Linked DNA regions of Homo sapiens: all the other regions are linked to region 2. The links come from fine-mapping of genetic effects on gene expression. A gene starts in region 2. Each other region holds a variant in brackets. All regions are shown on one strand. Distances are from middle to middle.

Region 1 (8,000 bases), 21 kb after region 2:
GCCAGGTCTCCTTCCTTCCCAAGAGCACGGTGCGAGTGCCTTCCCCACAGCTCTCCCAGGTGTCTGTCTCCCTCACTCCCCCAGGGCCAGGACAGCGAGCAGGGAGCACGCCTTCCTCCTGGTCCCTCCCAGACCCTCGCCAGGCTCAGCAGACCCCTCTCCTGTTGCGTTGCTCCTTCGGCAGGAGGTCAGCGTGGGTGAGAAGGGAGCAGAGGCCAGATGACCCTTCATGTCAGTTCAAGGAGAGGCCCCCAGGTCCTCCTCACGGGTTCCACTCCCCTCACCCTCCCAGTATCCATGAGCATCCCACCGCCACCAAGTGCAGGGCATCCAGGGGGTGGAGAGTGGATGGGCTTGAAGGGGAGTGGGTATGAGGTTTGGACAACCCCAGATGTGAAGAGTGTGTGTGTGTGTTGTGCACGTGGATTGCCTGTATGGTATTGCAGGGGAGAAGAGGATTTGGAAAAGGTGCAAGGAAATTGCAAGAATAGAAAATGAAAGAGGAAGTAGAAAGGTTTGCGGTATAAGAAGGGTGAGAGAAAGGGGAGTGGGGTTATGGAGGGATCTAGAAGAGAATAGTGGGGAGGGAAAGGGCAGGAATGGAAGGCAAGCCCATCACCCCAAAGCCCCTTCCCCATGTCTACCCCTCCCCCAACTCCAAAGAAGGAAATTAGGAGGCCACTGCGGATTATGTTTGGGTCATTTCCACATGCTTTATTCCAGCAATCAAAATAATTAAAAACATCTCAAATTATTATACACATACAAAATAGGTACAGAGTCTTTTGCTTCCTCCCACCCCTAGGGGGAAAAACTGCTTTGTGCTTTGGGAAGTTGTCTCTGAAACCCGGGGACAGAGGACGCAGGACAGACTAGGAGGGAGCCGGGAGGATGGGCTGCAGCTGTGGAGGAGGGTTTCAGAGGAGAGAGGTCGGAGAGCAGAGGCCTGAGAAGCCAGAGGCAGGTGGAGAGAGGGTGGAAAGTGAGCAGCGGGCTGGGCTGGAGCCGCACACGCTCTCCTCCCATGTTAAATAGCACCTTTAGAAAAATTCACAAGTCCCCATCCACAAAAAAAAAAAAAAAAAAAGAAAAATATCAAGGAATAAAAATAGACTTTGAACAAAAAGGAACATTTGCTGGCCTGGGGGGGCATCTCAATTTCTATAGCACCAGTGATTCCCTCCCCACCCCACCCATCACATAGATGTAGCACCTTTGGTATAAAATGGGGAGCCGCTTCCACCCTGCCCCCATCCCCGCCCCCAGGCAGTTGCCCCGGTGACACATCAAGACAAGAACGAGGTAGTCTTTCAGCAACACAGTTACACAAGGAACAGAACAGTCTCTCCCGCCCAGCCCTGCGGCACAAGGGATTGACACGCGTTCCCCAAATCCGATGTTTCTGCTTTGTCGTGGCCCTTCCTGACTCTCCTCCGAACCCAGTGAGGGGCTGGTGGCTCCCCCGGCATGACCCCCTCAAAAACGAAGGGGAGATGTTGCAAGAGCCATGGGAGCGCCAGATGGCAAGGCTTCTTTGGCAGTCTGAGAACCCCAGGTCCCCCAGGGCCTGGGGGTGCTGGGCGGGCAGGAGCGGGCTGAGGGTGGGGGCCACTTGGGTGTTTGAGCATTGCCTTTGATTGCTGGGCAGACAATACATTGTTTCCTGTGTCTTCTGGGGAGACAGATTTGGGAAGGAGTGGAGGGGAGGCCCCAAGGGGGGTGTGGAGAAAGGAGCAGAAAGGGCAGCATTGGGGTTTCATAAGCCCAACGGGCAGAAAGGGACTTACCCCCGCATGGGTCTTCAAGCAAGTGGACCAAGCTTCCTTTTTTAAAAAGTTATTTATTTATTCTTTTTTTTTTTTTTTTTTTGGTAAGGTTGAATGCACTTTTGGTTTTTGGTCATGTTCGGTTGGTCAAAGATAAAAACTAAGTTTGAGAGATGAATGCAAAGGAAAAAAATATTTTCCAAAGTCCATGTGAAATTGTCTCCCATTTTTTGGCTTTTGAGGGGGTTCAGTTTGGGTTGCTTGTCTGTTTCCGGGTTGGGGGGAAAGTTGGTTGGGTGGGAGGGAGCCAGGTTGGGATGGAGGGAGTTTACAGGAAGCAGACAGGGCCAACGTCGAAGCCGAATTCCTGGTCTGGGGCACCAACGTCCAAGGGGGCCACATCGATGATGGGCAGGCGGGAGGTCTTGGTGGTTTTGTATTCAATCACTGTCTTGCCCCAGGCTCCGGTGTGACTCTGGGGTGGGGCGGAGACAACGGGAGGGGGCATTACCACGTGGGAGTGATGGAGAGAGGGCACTATGGCCTGGCCAAAAAGCCCAAGGCCGGAGAGGTGGGGCCCTGCCTGGGGATTCTGGGCACTCACCGTGCAGCCATCGACAGTGACGCTGTAGGTGAAGCGGCTGTTGCCCTCGGCGCGGATCTCGATCTCGTTGGAGCCCTGGAGGAGCAGGGCCTTCTTGAGGTTGCCAGTCTGCTGGTCCATGTAGGCCACGCTGTTCTTGCAGTGGTAGGTGATGTTCTGGGAGGCCTCGGTGGACATCAGGCGCAGGAAGGTCAGCTGGATGGCCACATCGGCAGGGTCGGAGCCCTGGCCGCCATACTCGAACTGCAGGGGAGGGGAGAGAGGGAAGAGTGAGCCGCTATGCGGGAACCTCTAGTCCTGCCTGGCCTCCCTGTCCAGGGTCCTCAGAGAGCTGCCCAATGCACCGTTATATCGAGAGGAGGCACCACCTGCCCATCGGCAGCCTGTGTCTGAACCACTATCAGGGACCTGAGACCCCTGCCTCCCAGCCCAGCTCTGTCCATCACCCTTAGCAGAGACCTACTCCAGGACTTCATGTCCCTTCTGAGCACTGGGCTAGCCCATCTCCTAACACTGGCTCTGAGGTCCAGCTCACGCACCTGGAATCCATCGGTCATGCTCTCGCCGAACCAGACATGCCTCTTGTCCTTGGGGTTCTTGCTGATGTACCAGTTCTTCTGGGCCACACTGGGCTGAGTGGGGTACACGCAGGTCTCACCAGTCTCCATGTTGCAGAAGACTTTGATGGCATCCAGGTTGCAGCCTTGGTTGGGGTCAATCCAGTACTCTCCTGTGGTAGGGCAGGGCAAGATGGAGTCAGGGAA[A/G]GGGAGCAGCCAGCACCATATGGTAGGGGCACATATGGGCATGGGGACCCTGGCATGGCAGGAGTAGGAGGGAGGGAGAGGCTAGGGCAGGCCCTCACCACTCTTCCAGTCAGAGTGGCACATCTTGAGGTCACGGCAGGTGCGGGCGGGGTTCTTGCGGCTGCCCTCTGGGCTCCGGATGTTCTCGATCTGCTGGCTCAGGCTCTTGAGGGTGGTGTCCACCTCGAGGTCACGGTCACGAACCACATTGGCATCATCAGCCCGGTAGTAGCGGCCACCATCGTGAGCCTTCTCTTGAGGTGGCTGGGGCAGGAAGCTGAAGTCGAAACCAGCGCTGGGAGGACCAGGGGGACCAGGAGGTCCAGGAGGGCCGGGGGGACCCTGCACAGAGAGGGAAGAGAGTGGGGATTACCGGCATCCAAGTGCTTTGGGGGCTGGAGGGCCATGAGCAGAGGGGATGAGGGGCTACATACAACAGGACCAGCATCACCAGTGCGACCGCGAGGACCAGGGGGCCCAATGGGGCCAGGGAGACCGTTGAGTCCATCTTTGCCAGGAGCACCAGCAGAGCCAGGGGGACCCTGGAGTGGGGGAAATGGTTTGAGAAAGGCTGCCAGAAGCCCGAACAACCCCAGCTCTGGAGGAGAGGCCCACCACCCTCCCTGCTGGCTCTGGCCCCACGGCTCATAGAGCCAGCCTCAGCCTCTTTCCATAGGACATGCCATAGCTCCTCCCAGCCGCTGAGCCAGGGGAGGACGGATTGGGGAGCAGAGAGGCCAAAGCTAGATCAGATTGTTTGTTCAGGATTCTTCCTCTCTTTGCCCACTCCCTGTCCCTGAACCCTTCTCCAGAGAGGCAAAGGGTGCCTGGGTCCCTGGCAAGGGTCCCCGAGGTGAGCCTGGGCTTGGGGCTCAGGAAGAGGAGAGAGAAGGCATGACTTACTCGGGGACCAGCAGGACCAGAGGCTCCAGAGGGACCTTGTTCACCAGGAGAGCCCTGAAGGACAGATAAAAAAGGCAGTTCAGGCCCAGTGAGCGTCAAATGTAGCCTGAGGGCCTGGCTGGAGAGACAAGGGCAGTGTGGGCAACCCATGCCCCTTCATTATTCTGGAAATCTAGCCCGAGGGTGTCCATAGGCAGAGACCTCTCCCATAATCCCTCTCTGTGTACCCCTCACCCTCTCAGAAGCTACTTGGACATGCCCACAAATCTTCAGACCCCAGTCCCCACTAGGGAGGGGAAAGAATGACTATCCAGAGGGGGAAACTGAGGCGAAGCTCCCCCTCCTATCCCACAGCACAGCATGGGGACTGGGGAGGGGCTGAGCATACTTACAGGAGGGCCAGGGGGACCCTGGAGGCCAGAGAAGCCACGGTGACCCTTTATGCCTCTGTCGCCCTGTTCGCCTGTCTCACCCTTGTCACCACGGGGGCCTTGGGGTCCCTAGAAGAGAGAAAGGGACAAACTGTCAGGCGGAAGTTCCATTGGCATCGAGTGGGGCACTGTCTGCATCTGTAGAGTTCTAAAGGCATGGGGGACACAGCAGGGTACTTACGGCGGGGCCACGGGCGCCAACAGGGCCGACAGGACCGGCGGGACCAGCAGGACCCTGGGGAGAGCAAGGAAAGCATGAGCTCTTGGCCAGGGAAGGCTGAGGCTGGGGCTGCAGGATGAGGCCTCCCCTCTGCTGGATCTCTCTCTCCTCAGCTGCTTCCCACTGTGGCCATCTCTCCCAACTCCCAGGGAAACCTCCCCACTGCAATCTTCACGGGAGCTGGGGCCAACTCATGGGAGAGGCGGTCCTGTCTGGGAGAGGGGACTTGGGGCTGAGCTTTAACTCAGTTTTTTGGATTAAGGCCCTGACATCTTGCAGGATCTCCTTTCCTCCCCCTGCCTGGGTGAAGTCCGACACCCATCCCCAGGCCTCTAAGGAGGCCTGAAGAGTCCCTGGCCTGACCAGGTACAGGGAACTGGAGCCCAGCTACTTACAGTCTCACCACGATCACCACTCTTGCCAGCAGGGCCAACGGGGCCAGGGGCACCAGGAGCACCAGGAGCACCAGGGGGTCCAGCGGGGCCGGTCTCACCACGGTCACCCTGGCGGGGAGAGCAGGGGAATATGGGTCAGCCCCGGGTGAAGGGCCAGGATGGGGCAGGGAAGCAGCAGACAAGGCTGTGGTCATGGAGTGTTGCCATCTTACCTTGGCGCCAGGAGAACCGTCTCGTCCAGGGGAACCTTCGGCACCAGGAGCCCCCTGCAGAGAGAGAGAGAGAGAAGTGAGAGTCAGCCGGGGAAGAGGGCTTAGGCAAGGCCACAATGGCCATGCTGAGGGTACTGGCATGGGGGCTGGGGACTGCTCACCTCACGTCCAGATTCACCAGGGGGTCCAGCCAATCCAGGGGGGCCCATGGGACCAGGGGGACCACGTTCACCACTTGCTCCAGAGGGACCTTGTTTGCCAGGTTCACCCTAAGGGAGAAGAAAGAGTCAGGCCAGAGATAGGGTCTGGGAGGACCCTTGAGTCCGCTGGAGTCATCTCTACCAAATCTGTTCTCCTTGGCTCCGCCCCACTCCAAGTCCTGTGATGGTTTTTCTCAGGGCCCCCCAAGGTGAGGGGGGCACTTACAGAGGGGCCAGGAAGACCAGGGAAGCCTCTCTCTCCTCTCTGACCAGGCAGGCCGACCACACCACGCTGTCCAGCAATACCTTGAGGCCCGGGAGTACCAGGAGCACCCTTTGGGAGGCAAACAGGGGTGAGGTGCCAGAGAGCAGCACAGGGACCCCTCCCCAGCTCTGCACACCTCCGGAGCTGCAGAGATCTGAGCTGGCACTTACAGCAGGACCATCAGCACCAGGGGATCCTTTCTCGCCAGCAGGGCCAGGGGGACCAGGGGGACCAACTTCACCAGGACGTCCAGCAGGGCCAGTCTCACCACGGGGACCTTTGCCGCCTTCTTTGCCAGCAGGACCAGGAGGGCCAGGGGGTCCAGCATTTCCCTGGATGAGGATAGGAGGGGCTGTCAGACTCCAGGGGGCTCTGGTGCATCATTGGGTCCTCAGTCAGCCCCACCATCCTTCTGGCAGCCCCCACCCAGCACCCCCAACCTAGAGCAGTGGACTCTGCTGCAGAGACTTACAGAGGGGCCAGGAGGACCGACTCGGCCAGCAGCACCAGGGAAACCAGTAGCACCCTGGAAGGAGAGAACATAGGAACAGTCAGAGGGAGAACAGCCAACTCATCCGACCCAGCTGCCCTCACCTGCCACCGCTGCCTGGGGAGAGGGGAGAGGCTCAACAGAGAGGCGGGTGATACTCACAGGGGGACCAGCGCTGCCGCGAGCACCTTTGGCTCCAGGAGCACCAACATTACCCTGTAGGAGAGCACAGAGGCATCAAGCCTGGACCCGTCCTGGGTCCCAGCCCACCAGCCTCGTGGGCACAGAGGGCCAAGCCACTCACAATGGGGCCAGGGGGTCCAGCGGGTCCGGCAGGGCCAGGGGGACCAGCATCGCCTTTAGCACCAGCATCACCAGGTTCGCCTTTAGCACCAGGTTGGCCGTCAGCACCCTGGGGGAGGAAGCAGGGCGGTGAATGGAGGGAAGGAGGCAGGAGTTTCCACTACCTGGGGGAGGAGCAGTAATGGAGGCAGGAAGATGCTTGGGTGGGAAACAATCCCGTCTCCACCCTTCTCCCCTGAGGATGGCTGACGCCTTTGTCCTCATTCCGTCCCTCGAGGTCCCAGGTCCCAGTCGGTGATGAAAAATGATGGGGGTCTTGGTACTCACAGGGGGGCCAGCAAAGCCAGCAGGGCCGGGGGGACCAGGCTCACCACGGTCTCCCTAGAAGAAAAGGAGTCAGATTGGAGAGATGCGCTGACAGGAGGGAAGGCGGGGATGCGGTGAGGGGAGAGGCAAGGGGTGAAGGCACAGACAGGGCCAGGGGTGCTGTGTGAAGGGAGGGAAGGGCCAAGTATGGGGTCTTAACAGGTCTTCTGTACTTACGGGGGCACCACGAGCTCCAGTGGGACCAGCAGGGCCGCTGGGACCACTTTCACCCTGAGAGCAAGGGACAAGAGGCTCAGGGTCAGGGCCTCCCCTGAATACTCCTAGTAGATGACCCCAGGAGAGCCTCCCCTCCTTCTGGTCCCTCCAGGTTCCCAGGTTGACAGCTCAGTTTGGCAGGACCTGCTCTCCCAACGCAACCCCACGGAACCGTGCCCAGGCCTGCTGAGGAGGCTATGTGTTAGGGCAGAAGGTGGGGAGGCGGCCACCTCACCTTGTCACCAGGGGCACCAGCAGGGCCAGGAGGACCAATGGGGCCAGTCAGACCACGGACGCCATCTTTGCCAGGAGAGCCATCAGCACCTTTGGGACCAGCATCACCCTAAAGACATGGATAAGCTTGAGATTTCCAGTGTGGGGCAAGGAGGTGACCTATAGTGTTCTGCTTGTGTCTGGGTTTCCTGAGAGGCCCTCTGCAGCTCTGCCCTGCCTCCACCTGGGCCAAGGACTCAAAGATTCTTTCAGGAAAAAGGGTGCCTGCCTGGAGACTCAGGTGGAACTGAGGTTAAGAGGCCCCTGACTTGTGTAGCGGGATGAATAAGGGAGCCTCCACCAAGGAGATGCCCCCACCTCTCATCACCATGGTAACCCATGGGGATAGATGGGCCTGGACCACAGGGAGAGGATTCATCAGCAAAAAGGCCAGAGGGGAAAGGGGAAGAAGGGAGGATTAGCGAGAAGAGGGACAGATCCCAGAGAGAAGGAGAGATGCTGAGAGATTCAAAGCAGGCAGAGATGGGAGCCATGTAGGGCTCAGGGGAGGGGGAAGGTTGAACTTACTCTGTCACCCTTAGGCCCTGGAAGA
Region 2 (8,000 bases):
AGGAAGGAAGGAAGGAGAGGGAGGGAGGGAAGGAAGGAAGAAAGGAGGGAGGGAGGGAGGGAAGGAAGGAAGAAAGGAGGGAGGGAGGGAGAGAAGGAAGAAGAAGGAGGGAGGGAGGGAGAGAAGGAAGAAGAAGGAGGGAGGGAGGGAAGGAAGGAAGGAGGGAGGAAAGGAAGGAAAGTATGAAGGAAGGAAGGAAGGAAGGGAGGAAGGAAAAAAGAGAGAGAAAGGATGTATGGGAACCTATAGATTTGAAGAAATTTAAAAGAGCCTTGGCCAGGCACAGTGGCTCACGCCCGTAATCTCAGCACTTTGTGAGGCCAAGGTGGGTGGATCACTTGAGGTCAGGAGTTTGAGACCAGCCTGGCCAACATGGTGAAACCCCTGGGCATGGTGGCACGTGCCTGTAGGCTGAGGCAGGAGAATTGCTTGAATCTGGGAGGTGGAGGTGGCAGTGAGCCGAGATCATGGCACTGCACTCCAACCCGGGTGACAGAGCGAGACTCTGTCTCAAAAAAAAAAAAAAAAAAAGCCCTATAAATCATCAATCAGTTGCAATGTGTGTATCTTCTTTGTATCTTGAGTCAAACAAATACACTGTAAAAATATGTATGTTTATGAGAAATTGGTAATTTGAACACTAGAAGTTTGATATTAAGGAATTTTATTGATGATGTTAATAGCTGAACGTGTTATGTGATTATGTTAAAAAGAGTCATTATCATTTAAAGATACACACTGAAATATTGATGGATGAAATTAATCAGGAGGGGTACAGATGAAACTAGACTGGCCATGAGTTGATAATTGTTGAAGCCAGGTGACAGATACACGGGGGCTTATTATAGTATGCTGCAAATTTTTCAAACTAAGAAGTTTAAAGACCCTGTGACCTCCCTTCCCACCCCTAGGCCCAATAGACAGAAGGTGCTGTGTGTTACAAGCAGCAGGTTGCAATCCAGACAGCTCTGAGTGGGAAGGTCCTCTGATGGCTGAGGGGCCTGAGAAGGGTTTCTGGGGACTTTCTGGCTTGTGGGACAGTCCCTGGCTCCCTTGAATTGGGCAGGGAGGATCTGATGGGGAAGTAGCTGCAGCTTTTCATTAAGGAAGGCTGGCCTCTGTGGGCCTGGTGACACTGGGGCCAGGCACTGCTACCTTAAGACAGCTGAGTGGGTGGCTCCAAAAATAGCCAGGGGGACGGCAGGGGGCGGGGAGTCACATGGAGAAGCTCAGGGGTGAGGCTGGGCAGGTGCCCAGGGGGTTGGCACTTCTGCCTGCTCCCCCAGAACCCTTGGGCTCTTCCTCTGCCTCCAGAACCTTTCTTCCTCCCTCCCTCTGTCTCTGAGAAGACAGAGAGATGGCCAGGTGATGCTGGGACAAATACTGCCTTGCCTGAGGGGACGCTGACTCTGGAATTTGGTGGCTCTCCAGGGATGAGCGGGTCAGTCAGGTGGAGAGAGAGAGAGGAAGGGACAAGGACTGCGTAACCTGCCTACCAGTCACCCCATCTGCAGGCCAACACCTGTGCCCTTAGGCTGGACCCAAGTGATCCTTGCCTGGGGTATTTTGTTGTCCTTTTGAGGCCCTGGAGGAGAGGTCACACAGGCACCAAGGATTTGGGAACCCTGGCAGCCATAGGTCCCCGCCCCCTTCTCAGGGCACCTGGGGAGAGTGCCCCTGTGCCTGCCCTAAGTGAGAGACCTGGGGAGAGGACACCGCGCCCCATCGCCCCTGGACTGAGATCCTTTGGCAGAGGCAAGAAGGAAGGGGAAGCAGGGCCGGGCAAGTACATCAGCAGCACAGTCATCGACTGAGCCAGGCACTGGGCTAAGCCGTCCACATGCATTCTACTCATCAGCAATGTGGCCTTGGGGAAGGTATACACCCCTGTGCCTCAGTTTTATCATCTGTTAAATGGGCACAGTAATAATACCTGCCTCATGGAACTGCTGAGGAGATGGAATGAGGTAATATAGGTAGATATATGTAAGATTCTCAGCACAGTAGCTGGCAGCGCTAGCTGGTATTACCCACTGGCAGGTGACCTCCATGTGGGCAGAGGTTTGCTTATCTTTGCAATTTCAATGTCTGATACATAGCAGGTGTTTCATAAATATGCGCTGCATTCATTACTTTGTGGAGTCCTCACAATGATGCCAAGAGGCAAGCACTATTCTTGCCAGTTTATAGTTGTGGAAATGGGCTAGAGGGCAAATGGTGCACTCAAGGCCTCATCCCCAGCAAGTGGCCAAGGTGGCCCACCTCCAGGCCTCCAAGTCTATGCGCCGAATGAACCCTGACTCCATGGGCCAGAGAGGGTGCCTCCTCCGCTCACCTGTCTCTAGCTGGCTGGTCCTGTCCAGGGCTTGCTAGACCTCCACGCTGAAGTGCTTGGACTGGGGATAAAGGCTGGGTGGATGGCACCTACGTTTGCTGTTAAGGAAGCTGCCGCCAGCCAGCTACACCTACTAGTTACCAGGCCCTGTGCCAGGCCCAAGGATACAAACGTGACAAGATCCTAGTCTTCGAGGAGCTTGGAGCAGTCTGTGTGATTGTGTTGTGCCCAGGAAAGCACGCAGGGGCTAAGGGGACACCCAGCTTGGCCTAGCAGAAGAAGGGAGGTCAGAAAGGCTTCAGAGAGGAGAGGACATCTGTGCAGAGTCTGGAAAGGTGACTGGAAGGTTGCTGCTTGAATGAAGGTGGGAAGGGAACTGCAGGCAGAGGCAATAGCCTGGACGACGGCTTGGAGACTTGAGAGAGTCTGCCAAGCTAGGCAGGAGCGGAGTGAGGCTGAGCAGGGGCCTGGGGTTGGAAGGGTAGGGGCAGAGGATGGGATTCTAGACCAGCTGACCAGGTTCAGGACAGGCCAGAAAGCCACCAACTGGGGATGAGCTGGGAACTCAGGGGCCATGAGAACCATTAGAGTTTTAAGGGAGGATGGAGGTGGCCTGGTTGGTGGTTTAAAAAACACTGTGGCCACTGGAGGGGACGGTTGGAGGGACAATGAGTGCGAGGAGGGTGTCTATCCCAGATTTGGTGCATGCTCCAGGCGGGGAGGGGAGGCTGACGCTGGGACCCAGCTGCCCCGAGCCACCTCCCTCCTTCCCTCCTCTCCTCCCTGCCCCCTGTCTCTGTCACTCACCGGGCGGGCCAGGCCGGGCAGCCATGGCTGAGACACTCTTCTGGACTCCTCTCCTCGTGGGCAAGTTGGGGCCTTGTTCAGCGGGGAGGCCCAGGATGAGGGGGCAGGATTTAGGGGTGGTAAGACGGAGGTGTGGAGGGCCCACAGAAGAGGGATCTGGGTTGGGTGAGGCAGGCGCCAGAAGGGCTTTGGGGTGTTAATGCCATGGCCAGCTGGGGATCCAGGGAATGGGGCTGGGAGCTGGGCTCTGGGATGAAGGGGCTGGGAGCTCTGAGGGCTGGAGGTGTCCTAGGGCCCGGGTGGGTCTGACAGCACAGGCCCAAAGGGTCGTGGGCCCTTTAATGAGCTGGCTGGGCCGCAGCTTCTAAGCCCAGGCTAAATTTGGCCCTGGGAGGGAGGGTGGAGCTGGCGGCCAGGTCCTCTGCTCCTCTCTTGGACTTAGGATTCCTTTTGCTCAGCTCCTACTGGCCTCTAGGGCAGGCCTTCTTCTTCCCTGTATTTTAGGGGAGGAAGGTGGGGGTCTCCAGGCCCAGAATGGCTACCCTTCCTCCTCTGTAGGCTCCTGGCCCCGTCTTCCTCTCCTCTGGGCTCTTGGGCATTTAGCATGGGATTCTTTTCCCAGTGCCTTTCACACATACACACCCTCACACACACACACACCCACACACACCCTCACACACACCCTCACGGCACCCTCACACACACACCCTCACACACACCCTCACACACCCTCACACACCCTCACACACACACCCTCACACACCCTCACACACCCTCACACACACACCCTCACACACACCGTCACACACACACCCCACACACCGTCACACACACCCCCCACACACACCCCCACATACCCCCACATACCCCCACACACCCCCCGCAAACACACACCCCCCACACACACCTTCACACACACACACCCTCACACACACCCTCTCACACACACTCACTTGCACACACACCCTCACACACATCCTCACAGACCCTCACACATACCTTCACACACACACCCCCCCACATCCCCTCACACACACACACACCCTCACACACACACTTCCCAGTCAAACATCAGTCCCTGCCCACTGCACCATTAATAGGGGCCTAAAACAAGGAATGGAAAGGTTGTGGGAGAGGTTCTCCCTCGAATCCCGAAACCCAGACGATTAAAATGTCTAGCCCAGCAGGGCTTGCTCCCCCATCCCCACCCCAATCCCTTCCTGGGAGGCAGCAAAGGAAGCGCTTCTCTCGGTCCCTTAGGGGCTCCAAGGACTTGGTGGGGAAGGGAGCTTATCCCCTGCCCAGGACTGAGGCTGGCCTGTGTGTTTGGGACTTGTGGGGTCCCCACAGTTCTCCTGGCAGGGCTGGGGGACACCGAGGCCCAGCAGACCACGCTACACCCACTTGTGGGCCGTGTCTTTGTGCACACCTTGGACCATGAGACGTTTCTGAGCCTTCCTGAGCATGTCGGTGAGCGGCCTGACAGGCACCCAGGCGGGCGGGCTGGGGTGTACCCCGCAGGGCTCCTGCTGTGACTCGAATCCCCTCTCCTCGCTTCCACCAGCTGTCCCACCCGCTGTCCACATCACCTACCACGCCCACCTCCAGGGACACCCAGACCTGCCCCGGTGGCTCCGCTACACCCAGCGCAGCCCCCACCACCCTGGCTTCCTCTACGGCTCTGCCACCCCAGAAGATCGTGGGCTCCAGGTCATTGAGGTGCCGTCAGGGACCCTGAGAAAATCACAGGGGTGGGCCAGAGTGGCCTCCTAGGAGCAGCCCTATGAATTGGGATTGGGTGCTCATTCACAGTCATTTACATATAATTTACATACCTCTAATTTGGTATCTGAGTCCTCTCCTGCCAGGCCCCCGCTGTGCCACGTTTCTCCCCTAACCCACTTCTCAGATGTCTTTCCCATCCCCCAGGTCACAGCCTACAATCGGGACAGCTTTGATACCACTCGGCAGAGGCTGGTGCTGGAGATTGGGGACCCAGAAGGTACCTCTAGCTGTGCCCCATCCCTTCCCCACCAATGCCAGTCTTGGGGAATCTCTCCCGGAGGGGGAGGGGGCTGTGGACAGGAGAGGCTTGGAGAGGAGTGGAGCAGGGCATCCTGGAAAGTGGGGACAAGGCTCTCAGGGAATGGGTGCTGGGCTGGGATTCCAGGCTCTGGAGTTCTGTTACTCGCTGCGTTGCAGAGACTATTGGGACTTGGCTTGTTGGGGTCTGTGATGGATGGGGCATTGAGGGGCCTGAAGGGGTGTGCAGGGATGTGGGGAGGAGCTTCAAGGAGGCTTTGCGGGGCAGAGCTGGGGCTGGGTGCAGCCTGAGGTGTCCACCTGGCCTTCCCAGGCCCCCTGCTGCCATACCAAGCCGAGTTCCTGGTGCGCAGCCACGATGCGGAGGAGGTGCTGCCCTCAACACCTGCCAGCCGCTTCCTCTCAGCCTTGGGGGGACTCTGGGAGCCCGGAGAGCTTCAGCTGCTCAACGTCACCTCTGCCTTGGACCGTGGGGGCCGTGTCCCCCTTCCCATTGAGGGCCGAAAAGAAGGGTAGGTGTGCAACCCTAGAGGACTTCCTGAAAGAGGAGGATGCAGCTTGTGGCGGGCATAGAACAAGGGTCTCCCTAATTTCCAGGTGGGGCTTTACCACGCACATCTCCACCTCCCAGCTTCACACCCCTCACCACTCTCCTCTGGCTATACCCGCATCTCCTTGTCCTTCCAGAGCCTAGACCCTAGTTACCCTGAACTCTGTACTTCCTGGTGCCTCATGAGGACGTACCAGATACATCCATTAAAAGACATTCCTTAGTAGGGAGGGTAAGACCCCCTAGAAGAATGGGGTGCCCTGTGTACTCTCACCATGATCTCAGATCTCTGGGAGGACTGTGACTCCTGCCAGACCCCAGCTGTGCCATGTTCCTCCCTTAATCCTCCCTCTTAGGCGTCTCCCTCATCCCATCCCCAGGTCATAGCCTACAATTAGGAAAGTTTCAACAACCCCTGGCAGAGTGGTGCCTCGTGCCCCCTGCCCCCACTCTGCTGACAGTGACTTCTATCTGGTCCCAGGGTATACATTAAGGTGGGTTCTGCCTCACCTTTTTCTACTTGCCTGAAGATGGTGGCATCCCCCGATAGCCACGCCCGCTGTGCCCAGGGCCAGCCTCCACTTCTGTCTTGCTACGACACCTTGGCACCCCACTTCCGCGTTGACTGGTGCAATGTGACCCTGGTGAGGAGGGACCCTGGGTCCGGGGGTGGGGTGGGGCATGGCCCCCATCCCAGTCCCCCTTCCCTCCCATGCTGCTTCCTATCTCCGTCTCTCTGATTGCTCCAGTCACCATTTCTTTCCCTGATGCTCTCAGTATTGCCCACAGGCTTAGTCTGAGGATACACACACACACACACACACACACACACACACCCCTGAAGTTCTACCTTTCCCCCACAAGAGGGCAACAGAGTCCGCAATCCGCATGTGGGGTCTCCAACTCCCGCGCCCCAGATCTGCCCAGGTCAACAGCTATATCACAGTCCAGTTCCCAAACCCTTTCCCTACCAAGGGCCTCTGCGTGACAGCTCTGTCTGCTTTTCTGTAAGGTGCCACCTAGCAAACCCACTTACAACAAGGATCTGATAGCTCTTCACACTATAAACCAAAGATGCTCACAACAGCTCTTTGGATACTGAGCTGAGGTTCACAGGATCCCACGGCTGGTGTACACTGTTCCTGTGAATTGACCAACAGAGCAGGGACTCATTCAGGGTCCACAGCCAGCGACTGGTAATTGACAACATTCTTGAGCACTTGCTATGTGCTTGGCACTGTCCCATCAACATATTTTATGCTCACCACCACTCCAGGAGACAGGTGCTACTATTATCCTTCTGACATTACAGGTGATGAAACAGAGGCACATAATCATCCTAGCTAAGCACTTGTCTGAGTCTGGATTCAAACCAGGAGGTCAGACCCTAGAGCTGTGCGCTAACCAGTGCACTGTCCCGCCTCTGCTGGACTTTGTGTCTCCTGCCTCCTAGTCCTGGCCCCTGCCATGTTCCTGGGGACCTCTGTGTCCAGCCAGCCACTTCCTGCGTCAGCCCTGAGCTCTCTGTGCAGGTGGATAAGTCAGTGCCGGAGCCTGCAGATGAGGTGCCCACCCCAGGTGATGGGATCCTGGAGCATGACCCGTTCTTCTGCCCACCCACTGAGGCCCCAGACCGTGACTTCTTGGTGGATGCTCTGGTCACCCTCCTGGTGCCCCTGCTGGTGGCCCTGCTTCTCACCTTGCTGCTGGCCTATGTCATGTGCTGCCGGCGGGAGGGAAGGTGAATGTGGGCATGAAGGGCGGGGGAGCACCTGCTGGAGCTCACACCCATGGGACTCACAGTGGCACTTGTGCTGTATGGGACCCAGACACCATGGGAATGGGGTTCTCAGGCACAAAAGGAGTGTGGGGCCCCTTTCTAGGCAACTTGGGGCTTGAGACCTGCCTGGCCTGGCACCAGGAGGGCATTGTGGATAATTGCACACAGACCTCCACTCACATTGGAGCCCTGGGGCACCTTGGGGCGAAACCCAGAGCTGGGCTAACCCTCTCCTTCACTTTTCCACAGGCTGAAGAGAGACCTGGCTACCTCCGAGTGAGTAAAGGAAAGCTGGGGGTGGGGTGGGAGCCCACCTAGACAGTTGTTGGACCCCGCCACCAAACTATGCCATGAACAGCAGAGACAAAATAAATAACTCCAGGGTGATGCTCACCCCTTCCCTTGACCTCTGTAATCCCAGCACTTTGGGAGGCTGAGGTGGGAGGATTGGTTGAGCCTGGAAGTTTGAGGCCAGCCTGGGCAAC
Region 3 (8,000 bases), 23 kb before region 2:
GTAATGCTTCATCTAGCCACCAGGGGGCGACCACGCGGCCAGCCAGGCAGGGACTCCCTACCTCCTCGTCATCCTCCCCATACTGGGCGTATCTCTGCTCCATCATCTCCCGCTGCCATCGCTCCTGTTCCAAAGTCTGCTGAATTAGCTGGGCCACTTCGCTCTGCTCTCCCGGCCGCTCCCGGCCAATCATAAACCTGCAGGGGCACCGGCATCATCCGCTGCCTCTGTCCTCAGCCAGGTAATGCATCATCCTCCCTGCTGATGCTCCCCTCTCCAAACTCAGGCCCTCCCAGGGGAGGAGAGATGAGAGGGCTGAGTCCGAAGGCTGCAGTGTTAATAATGAATGGGGGAATGAGGGCCCTTATCAGGTTTCCTTCCCAAGGGAGGCAGGAAGGCCCATTCACCCCTCTGGCCAGTATTGCGGGAGGGAGAATGTCAGCCCACCTCTAGGCTGTGCTGCAGGGGACATGCACTGAGGAGGCTCTTCCCCTGCCACAGGGGAGAAAATGAGGCAGGGAAAGGTGAAGATGACCCTCCCAGCAGGGATGGGCTGCGGAGGTGTTTCTTGGGTATGCTCCAAGCCCCTGAGCTTCAGGAAGGGGCGGGATGATGGCAACTGGAGATTAGGATGGAGAGGAAATAGTGGAACTTCCAGGCACCAGCCCCTCCTCCCGGTGGCCACCCACATCCTGTTTCTCTCCACCACCCTTTCCTGGGGGTAGTACCCCTCTTGCAGGGGGGCAGGGAGTGATCCCTGAATGTTAAGCCAAAGGTAGAGTGGACACAGGGAGCTTCTGATCCAGTCCCCTTGGTTACAGGCCTGGGGCGGAGTCTTCCCAGGATGACATAGGGCTGGTCGGGGTGGGGGGCATGAGGTCCCAATGAGGGGACCCCAATATGGTTAGCATTCACCCTGGACGTCCTGGTTCTTCAGTCAGTGAGTCAGGGACAGGTAGGGGGAAGGAGAAGAAGCCCTAGAGGACAGTTTGGAGGGCTGGTGGACAGTGGGCCAGGAAGGCTGAGTACTGGTGGCCAGCTGTTGCCAGGGAGCTGGGATGAGAAGGCAGGTGTGAGGCGAGGGACTCCAGGCACAGCAACTCCTGCAGCCAAGGAGTCAGCAGAACCTCTGTGAGCTGGGCCACCAGAACCTTAACTGGCTGTTAAGGCAGGTGAACGGAGTGCCTGGACGAGGACCTCCTGCCCGCTCCCACGCCCCACCCCTCTGGGCTCTCACCGCACTCGGCCCTTGGTGTTCCGGAGCACAGACGCCGCGAAGCTCTGGGTCACTCCCACCAGACTTGTTCCATCCACCTCCACCAGGAGATCATTCACCTGGATCCTAGCGGAGTGACATTGGTTAAGGGGTCACAGGGGAACCGAGGAGCGAGGGTAGAGGTAGCCTCCTCCCATCAGAAACTCCAGGCTCCCCAGCCTGAGTACATAGTGAGAACTCATCTCTACAAACAATAAAAAGAAAAATTAGCTGGGCATGGTGGCACGTGCCTGTAGTCCCAGTTACTTGGGAGGATGAAGTGGGAGGATCACTTGAGCCAGGGAGGTCAAGGCTGCAGTGAGCTGTGTTTGCGCCACTGCACTCCAGCCTGGGCAACAGAGTAAGACCCTGCCTCAAAAAAAAAAAAAAACAAAAAAAAACAAGAAAAGAAAACAACAACAAAAAACCTCACAGATACTTTGTCCTCACAGGGACCTGGTACTTTGTCTACCTGCGTAACATTCACAAGGCCAGAGGATTAAGTGTCAGCCAGGCCCACCTGTGTGGGCAGTGAGAGCCAGGCAAGCAAAGCAGACACAGGCGTCCAGGACCAGGAGACGCGGCAGGCACACTTCCTGTGACAATCACACTCTTGTCCCCTCCTTCATCATACTTGACTGAGCGGTGTGACATTCTCAGAGTTCATCTCTGCCATGCACACTGGCCAGGAGCCCCACAGCACACAAGTGACATGCCACCCTCTTACGTGTACATTTCTGCACAGAACTGAGTGCACAGATGTCCTCCCAAGTCCCCAAGACCGAATGGCACTCTCTCGAGTTCACACACTGTCCCACACACACCTGATACAGGTGCACCTGCCGACACACTCCAGTTGTGTCCCCTGAAGCCCGTGTTCTCCATACAAGGGGAGGTTCAGTCTGGCCTGCTGAGGGAGATGGAGGGTGGGGGGCCTCTCAGACACCTCCCTCCTCCACTCCACCTCCCTGGGAGCTCCAGGCCTTCTCTCAGGACTCCCACACGGAAATGGAGGAAATGGCCTATTGTCAACAGCTCACCCCAACACATGCCACTCCCAGGTGGGCATGAGTGAGTGGCCACGGCCACCATGCACACTCACTCCTTAGACAACCCACAGGCAACAATGGGAAAGGCTCTGGAAGTTCACATTGGGAGGGGAAGGGGTAAATGAAAGGGTATCCTGTTCCCGGCCCCTCTCCATGCCACCTGGGCCACAACAGGTAGAAGCCCCTTGACAGGGCAGCCCCATCTCTAGAAACAAGATCCCAAAGTCACCCAGATCCCAAAGGACACCTGCTCACCTCTGTCACATGGAGGGGGTCTGGGTTTGGAGGTACCACCACAAGAGATCCCCAATGTCACCTCTAACTTACAGCCACCCTGGGGGATGCCCTACAGCCCTTCCTACTGCCACTCCCCACACCCCTGGAATACACAGCTAACACAGGGGTCCCTGGCTGGCACACAGCTCCAGGATGCCCTCCCTGAACCTTCTGTCCCACAGAACTCACCCCTTGCAACCACAGATGCTCAATACAGGCACACACACTCACATGCGCAAAGACAGCCTGTCTCCAGAGCCACTGCCATCAATGGGTCTAGTCACAGCCTCCTGGCCCCTGCTCTCTATGCCCCAGCCACACCTGCCTGCTCATGGCGCCACTGCCTGGAACCTCTGCACTCACTCCCTCAGCACAGCTAACTCCTGCTCCAGCCTTAGCTCTCAGCTCCAGCACTGCTTCCTCCAGGAAGCCTTCCCTAATGCCCAGAGAGATTAAACCCTCCTGTTGTATGCCTTCACAGCAGTCTGCATTTCCCTCCATTTCACTACCTTTTGTGTGTCCATTTATTCAATGTCTACCTCACACCACACTGCACACTTCTCAAGTGCGCCAGGCCCTCACCATTGACTTCCCAGGGCCCAGCACCGGCCCAACACTGTCAGAGACTCAATGTCCAGCGAAAAAAAAGCTCAAATATACTCCATGCCTGTCTTCTCCCTACCAGGGCCCAAACTGTACTCCAGACCGGGATGCACAACACACGCCTATAGCCCCCATGGTCACCAGCCCCTCCTGGAGAACACACGCTCCTTCAGGGCATAGGGGCTGACAGTGCTCACTGTTGTATTTCTGGGGCCTGGAACAGCACCTGGCATGGCAGTGCTCCCCGAACATCTCAGCTGCACACACAGCACGGAAATCTCCCAGGGAAGGCCCGCCCCACCCCCTGCTCAGTGGCCCACCCCACCAAGGATGGCCGGTCGGAGAGGGAAAAAGGGTCAGGCGAGACTGGGGAGGATTGGTACCTGCCATCCCGATGGGCCGCACCACCCTCCGTCACGGTCTTGACGAAGATACCCAGCTTCTCCAGGCCCATGTCTGCCCCGGCGCCCATGCCGATGATGCTGATGCCCAGGCCCTCGGAGTCTGTGGAACAGAGAGTGGTGAGATGGCAGGGCTTGTAGGGGACAGACGAGAGACTCTCCACCCCGAATTCCAGGGCACAGCCCCCCCATCAGGAAGCAGTCCCCATTAGGGGATGTCCCACAACTGAAGAAGGGATATAGTTCTGTCCACCGTCTTTGCCAAGTCTACTAGGATGGCTCCTGAGCCGCTCCCTGCCCTTTGTCCCTTCCAAAGAACCAATGGGCAGAAGAGCGTGCCAAGGGTGGCACAGGCAGGTAAGACTGTTGCATATGCAGACCAGGGCGTGTGGCCAGGATGGGGGTAGCCAGGATGGGGGTAGCCAGGATGGGACTCAGCCCTAAGCCTTTGGTCTTCTCCCTCTCAGCCAGTCTCATCTGTACTCATAGCTTCAAGGACCAAAGACCTCCAGATTTTCTCTCCCCTGAGGTCCATTCCCCTATCCACACCTGCCCCTGCCTGACTCATGGCCCTCTGATGTCCCAACTAATGACCTTCCCCCACAAACACTCCCTCATGGGGGATGGTACCACCACCTGCCACCTGCCAGACCTGGGAGGCACCTGGATTCCTCCCTCCCACTCACAGCCTCCACCTGAGCCAAATGACCCCCAGATGCTATGGATTCTACCCCTGGAGATCTTTCCAGTCCACCCACACCCGCTCTGCCATCTTCCTGTCCACGCCACAGTGGCCTTTCTCCATCCACTTGTGACCCCCTCCCTACATCACAGCCTGGTGTGGTCTTTCTAGACCTTTCCTGTGCTTCGAAATGGCTCCCAATCCATCTTAGCAACAAGACCACGTGGTCTGCAAGGCCTCATTTGCATGCTCTTCTTGCCCTCCCTATGCAAATGCAGCCAAGCCCCTTTCCTGACTACTCCCCTAATTCCTCCTCACCAGAGTGCAACTCAAGCTTCACTTCCCTGGAGAATGCCCCCAAGCACAGTCTGGTTAGGTCACCTGTTAAACGCTTTTACAGTGGCCCCTCCTTACCTTCCCCAGCCCCTATTCCAGCGCCTAAGGGTGAGATTAGATGTGACTGTGCCTTCCATGTCTGCCTCCCCCATCCATCTCCCCAGGAGCCCACCACTGTGTCCCCAACACAGAGCCCAGGACCTAGCACACAGTACCCTACAGAGACCTGTTAACTGAATGTGCAAATGTGGTTCCATGACCGGGGTGGTGGGGGTGTGGCTTGGCCTGGGTTGGAGGCCCTGTTTGCTCTGGGTGCTGACAAGGGAGGAG[CGGGGAAG/C]GTCACCAAGGGCCTGAGTCAGAGGGAGAGGCCCAGCAAGTCTGTGGGAGCCCCTGAGGGCACAGGGCAGGAGCTGGTGCCAGAGATGAGACCCGGGTCAACCCCAGCTGTGCGCAAGTGACGTGGCCTCCTGGCCTCTCACCCTTCTCCAGCTCCACAGGGAACAGCTCCAACCTCTCCACACGCTTCTCCAGCTCGTACTCAGCAGAGGCTGCCATGGGATCCACATCCTCGTTGCGACGATCGTAATCCTCGTTGGAGTAAGTGCTGAACACCTGGGGAGGGAGGCAGCTGGTCAGAGAGGCCGGCAGGAGGACAAGTGCAGAACTGGCATGAGGAGGCCGAGGAGGCAGGCTGAGTTACCCACCCCATGCCTCCCCATGATAGCCCTGAGATGAGGCCTCACCCAGTCCCCTGAGACCCCAGCTCTGAGCAAAACAAAGGCCCTTATAGTTCTGGAGCCCAGGGTCAAGACAGAAAGGGACCCAGCCTTGGCAGACCCGCACTGCTATTCTCTCTGTAGCTCCAACCAGCGTGAGCATGGTCTGCCATAGGCACAGAAGGGGAATCCTGGAGAAACGTCCAACTCAGGAACCCAGACACCCAGATAGAGGGAAAGTGAGAGATAGGACCCAGAGAGCCAGACAGGCGAGAGGGGACACAAAGACAGACACAGAGAGGAAGGAACAGGCTGAGCAGAAGAGGGGAAGAGGAGGAGGGGAGAGAGGATGGAGAAGATGCTGGAGAATGCCAGATGGGGAGAGAGGGGGGAGCGGGTGTGAGACAGAAGAGGAGGAGGGGAGCAGGAGGGGTGGAAGGGGAGAGGTACCCAGGACTGGCTCTGACTTGCCGCTCAAGTGGATGTTGGAGCAGGGGAGGGAAGCAGGAAAGACCATCTCTATCCCCGTGGAGAAGAGGCAGGCCCTCCATCCCCAGGAGCCCCTCGGGTGGCAGAAGCAGGGGAAAAAGCTGGGCCTGGCCTTCCCTGCACACCCAGGCCGCTCTCCCTCCACAACTGCAGCTCTCTAAGTTACGCCCCCTGTCCATGTGCTAGGGGGCCCAGGAGACTGAGGAGGGGACAGCCTCTGACACTGCCCACAGCGAACCCAGGCGCCATGGGGCTCCGAGGCCACCCCTGCCTTGGCATCTCCTGTACCCCTCTGTTGTCTCTCTCCAATGTCTCTCAGCAAAAAGAGGAATTCCTCAGCTCTGACTCCCTCAGAAGGACAGAGAAGGTGGGGCTGGGCTCTGTGGGAATGTCTAATTCTGGGCCCAGGCAGGGGTGCCCCCAGTGGGAGGTTAATGAGCACCATTTGGGGTACCATGACATGCTCAAGCTTCATCGCCTGCAGTGACAGGTTGGCACCACTTGGAGCCAGGCGGGGGCGGGGAGGGATGGGGAACAGCTCTATCAGTTGGCTGAGTCTGAGCCCCGAGGAGTCAGACTAGGACCCCATCTCCCCCAAGGGCCCTTGTCAGGGCCCGTCTCCTCCAGGAGCAGACCTTGTGGGCACCCTGGTGGGCAGCAGCACTCTCGTGTCCCAGCCTTTGTCTGGGTTTGCTCCGTGTCGTCCCCACCCCCTACCAGAGAGGCTCACTGCCACAGTGGGAGAGGGAGGGGGTGCTCATAGGACTAGAAGGCTTAGGTGGGAGGGACCCCTCTGGTCACTTAGCTCAATGCCCTCAATTTCACAGCATCAGAGAAACTCTGGCTCCAGCCCTTAAAGCTCATCTGTCCATTGCACCCCTCGAACAAACAGGCTGCCTACCTTGCACATAGTCCAGGGCACCAGGCCCACTGCCCAAGGTCACATGGGTTAAACTGTGGCCAGGCAGAATGAGACTGCACCCAGCTGGGACAGGTGGGTGGGTCACCGGTGACTTGGTTTCCACTGCACACATGCCCCAGGCTCTGGGACAGGGCTGATGTGAGCCTGGACTCAGCAGTGGGATTTGGCCCACTTTGCACTGGAGTCCCCTGACTCTCACCCTCTGCTCTAGGAGACACGGTCCCTTCATCATTGAGTCTCTACAGTCTCCTGAGTCAACGAAACCCCTCCCTGACACACATGGACACACACGCCCGCTGTGACCTCCAAAACACACCTCACAGCCTGTCCTGGGCTGCACCCTGCCCTCTTCTCTCAGCCTATCAAATCCTGTTCCCTTTCTGGTCCTGCCGCCTGCAGGAATCCCAGGCCTGGGCTCAGAGGCCCCAGACCACCTCCTACCCCTCCTCGGGCTGCCCACCATGATATGCCGGTCTAGCAGAGGGCCCTAGGGGAGGTCCCACCTCCCTGAGGCCAAGCTGGAATTGGGTTCTCTGCCCTCAGCAGAGGCCTCCACCTCCAGAAGGGCAACAATTGGGTCATCCATGGGGACCGGGACCCTGGACTTGGCATCAAGGCAGGGGCAGGAAGAAGAAAAAGTGGGGCCCCTGTGCCAGGGTGGGGAGGAGGAAATCCCCAGTGAGGCTGAAAGCCAGCCACACTGGGCCCGCCACACACGCTGGCTCTCACACAGGGCGGGCCAGCTCCAAAGTCACCAGGGAGCCGGGAAGCACTGCTCCAAATCATGTGCTATTTTTTACTGAAAAATCAGGGTAAGGCGTCAAATATAGACAGTCAGAGGCCCAGACCAAACTCCAACTCTGAGGGAATCGGACTTCTCGCAAAATTAGTGGGGGTGGGGTGGGGGGATCCAAACTCTGCTTCAGAGTCCCAAGAAACACTACAGTCCCCCATTCCCTTCAGAACCCCACTGCCTTCAGGAGGGGAAAGGGGTTGGGAGAGGACCCCGCAGGTCCCAGCCCAGGGGAGAGGCTGGCCTGAGAGCCACTCACTTTTAACCTTTCAGGCCTCTTGCTGGGGTGGGAGGTGGGAGAGGGGCAGAGGCTGACATTCTGGGCGAGTGAGAGGAAAGTTGGGAAGCTTCAGAGTCCAGGAGTAGTTATGGAAACGACAAGCAAACAGATGGTGCTTTGGCTAGGGAAGGGTAAAGGCAGGGCAGGGTCCAGGCCAAGGAGAGTCCAGGGACCTGGACACTTCCATGGGGCGGACCT

Direction of the effects. Alleles are on the strand shown, and positions count from the first base shown. SD is a standard deviation of normalised expression in the study named. Not every link is listed here.
For the expression in aorta of the gene that starts at base 3,130 in region 2, G is the high allele of the variant in region 1 and A is the other (small effect, 0.26 SD a copy in GTEx).

Evidence for each region. PIP is the estimated chance that this variant, and not a neighbour inherited with it, causes the effect.
Region 1: its variant is fine-mapped to the expression of SGCA in aorta (GTEx, PIP 0.97).
Region 3: its variant is fine-mapped to the expression of SGCA in whole blood (TOPMed, PIP 0.95).

Annotation. Positions count from the first base shown.
Region 1 is chr17:50,183,408-50,191,407 of GRCh38, forward strand. COL1A1 (collagen type I alpha 1 chain) reads right to left here. Exons shown (of 51, transcript NM_000088.4): 32 at 7,976-8,000; 33 at 7,410-7,517; 34 at 7,136-7,189; 35 at 6,920-6,973; 36 at 6,594-6,701; 37 at 6,452-6,505; 38 at 6,272-6,325; 39 at 5,970-6,131; 40 at 5,761-5,868; 41 at 5,496-5,603; 42 at 5,335-5,388; 43 at 5,123-5,230; 44 at 4,689-4,742; 45 at 4,469-4,576; 6 more. The coding sequence ends at 2,095. Among named protein-coding and RNA genes, the nearest start is that of COL1A1, 14 kb to the right of the region's middle. RefSeq lists enhancers at 986-1,976, 5,299-5,854, 5,855-6,408. The variant A/G (reference allele first, on the strand shown) is at 3,135.
Region 2 is chr17:50,162,876-50,170,875 of GRCh38, forward strand. SGCA (sarcoglycan alpha) reads left to right here and starts at 3,130. Exons shown (of 10, transcript NM_000023.4): 1 at 3,130-3,202; 2 at 4,493-4,612; 3 at 4,707-4,861; 4 at 5,072-5,144; 5 at 5,499-5,697; 6 at 6,217-6,379; 7 at 7,268-7,476; 8 at 7,765-7,791. The coding sequence starts at 3,166. LOC105371818 (a long non-coding RNA gene) reads right to left here and starts at 3,482. Exons shown (of 4, transcript XR_934833.3): 1 at 3,143-3,482; 2 at 2,336-2,604. RefSeq lists an enhancer at 724-1,224.
Region 3 is chr17:50,140,032-50,148,031 of GRCh38, forward strand. PPP1R9B (protein phosphatase 1 regulatory subunit 9B) reads right to left here. Exons shown (of 10, transcript NM_032595.5): 2 at 5,082-5,214; 3 at 3,567-3,687; 4 at 1,238-1,342; 5 at 62-197. Among named protein-coding and RNA genes, the nearest start is that of PPP1R9B, 6.6 kb to the right of the region's middle. RefSeq lists enhancers at 6,256-6,926, 6,927-7,595. The variant CGGGGAAG/C (reference allele first, on the strand shown) is at 4,933.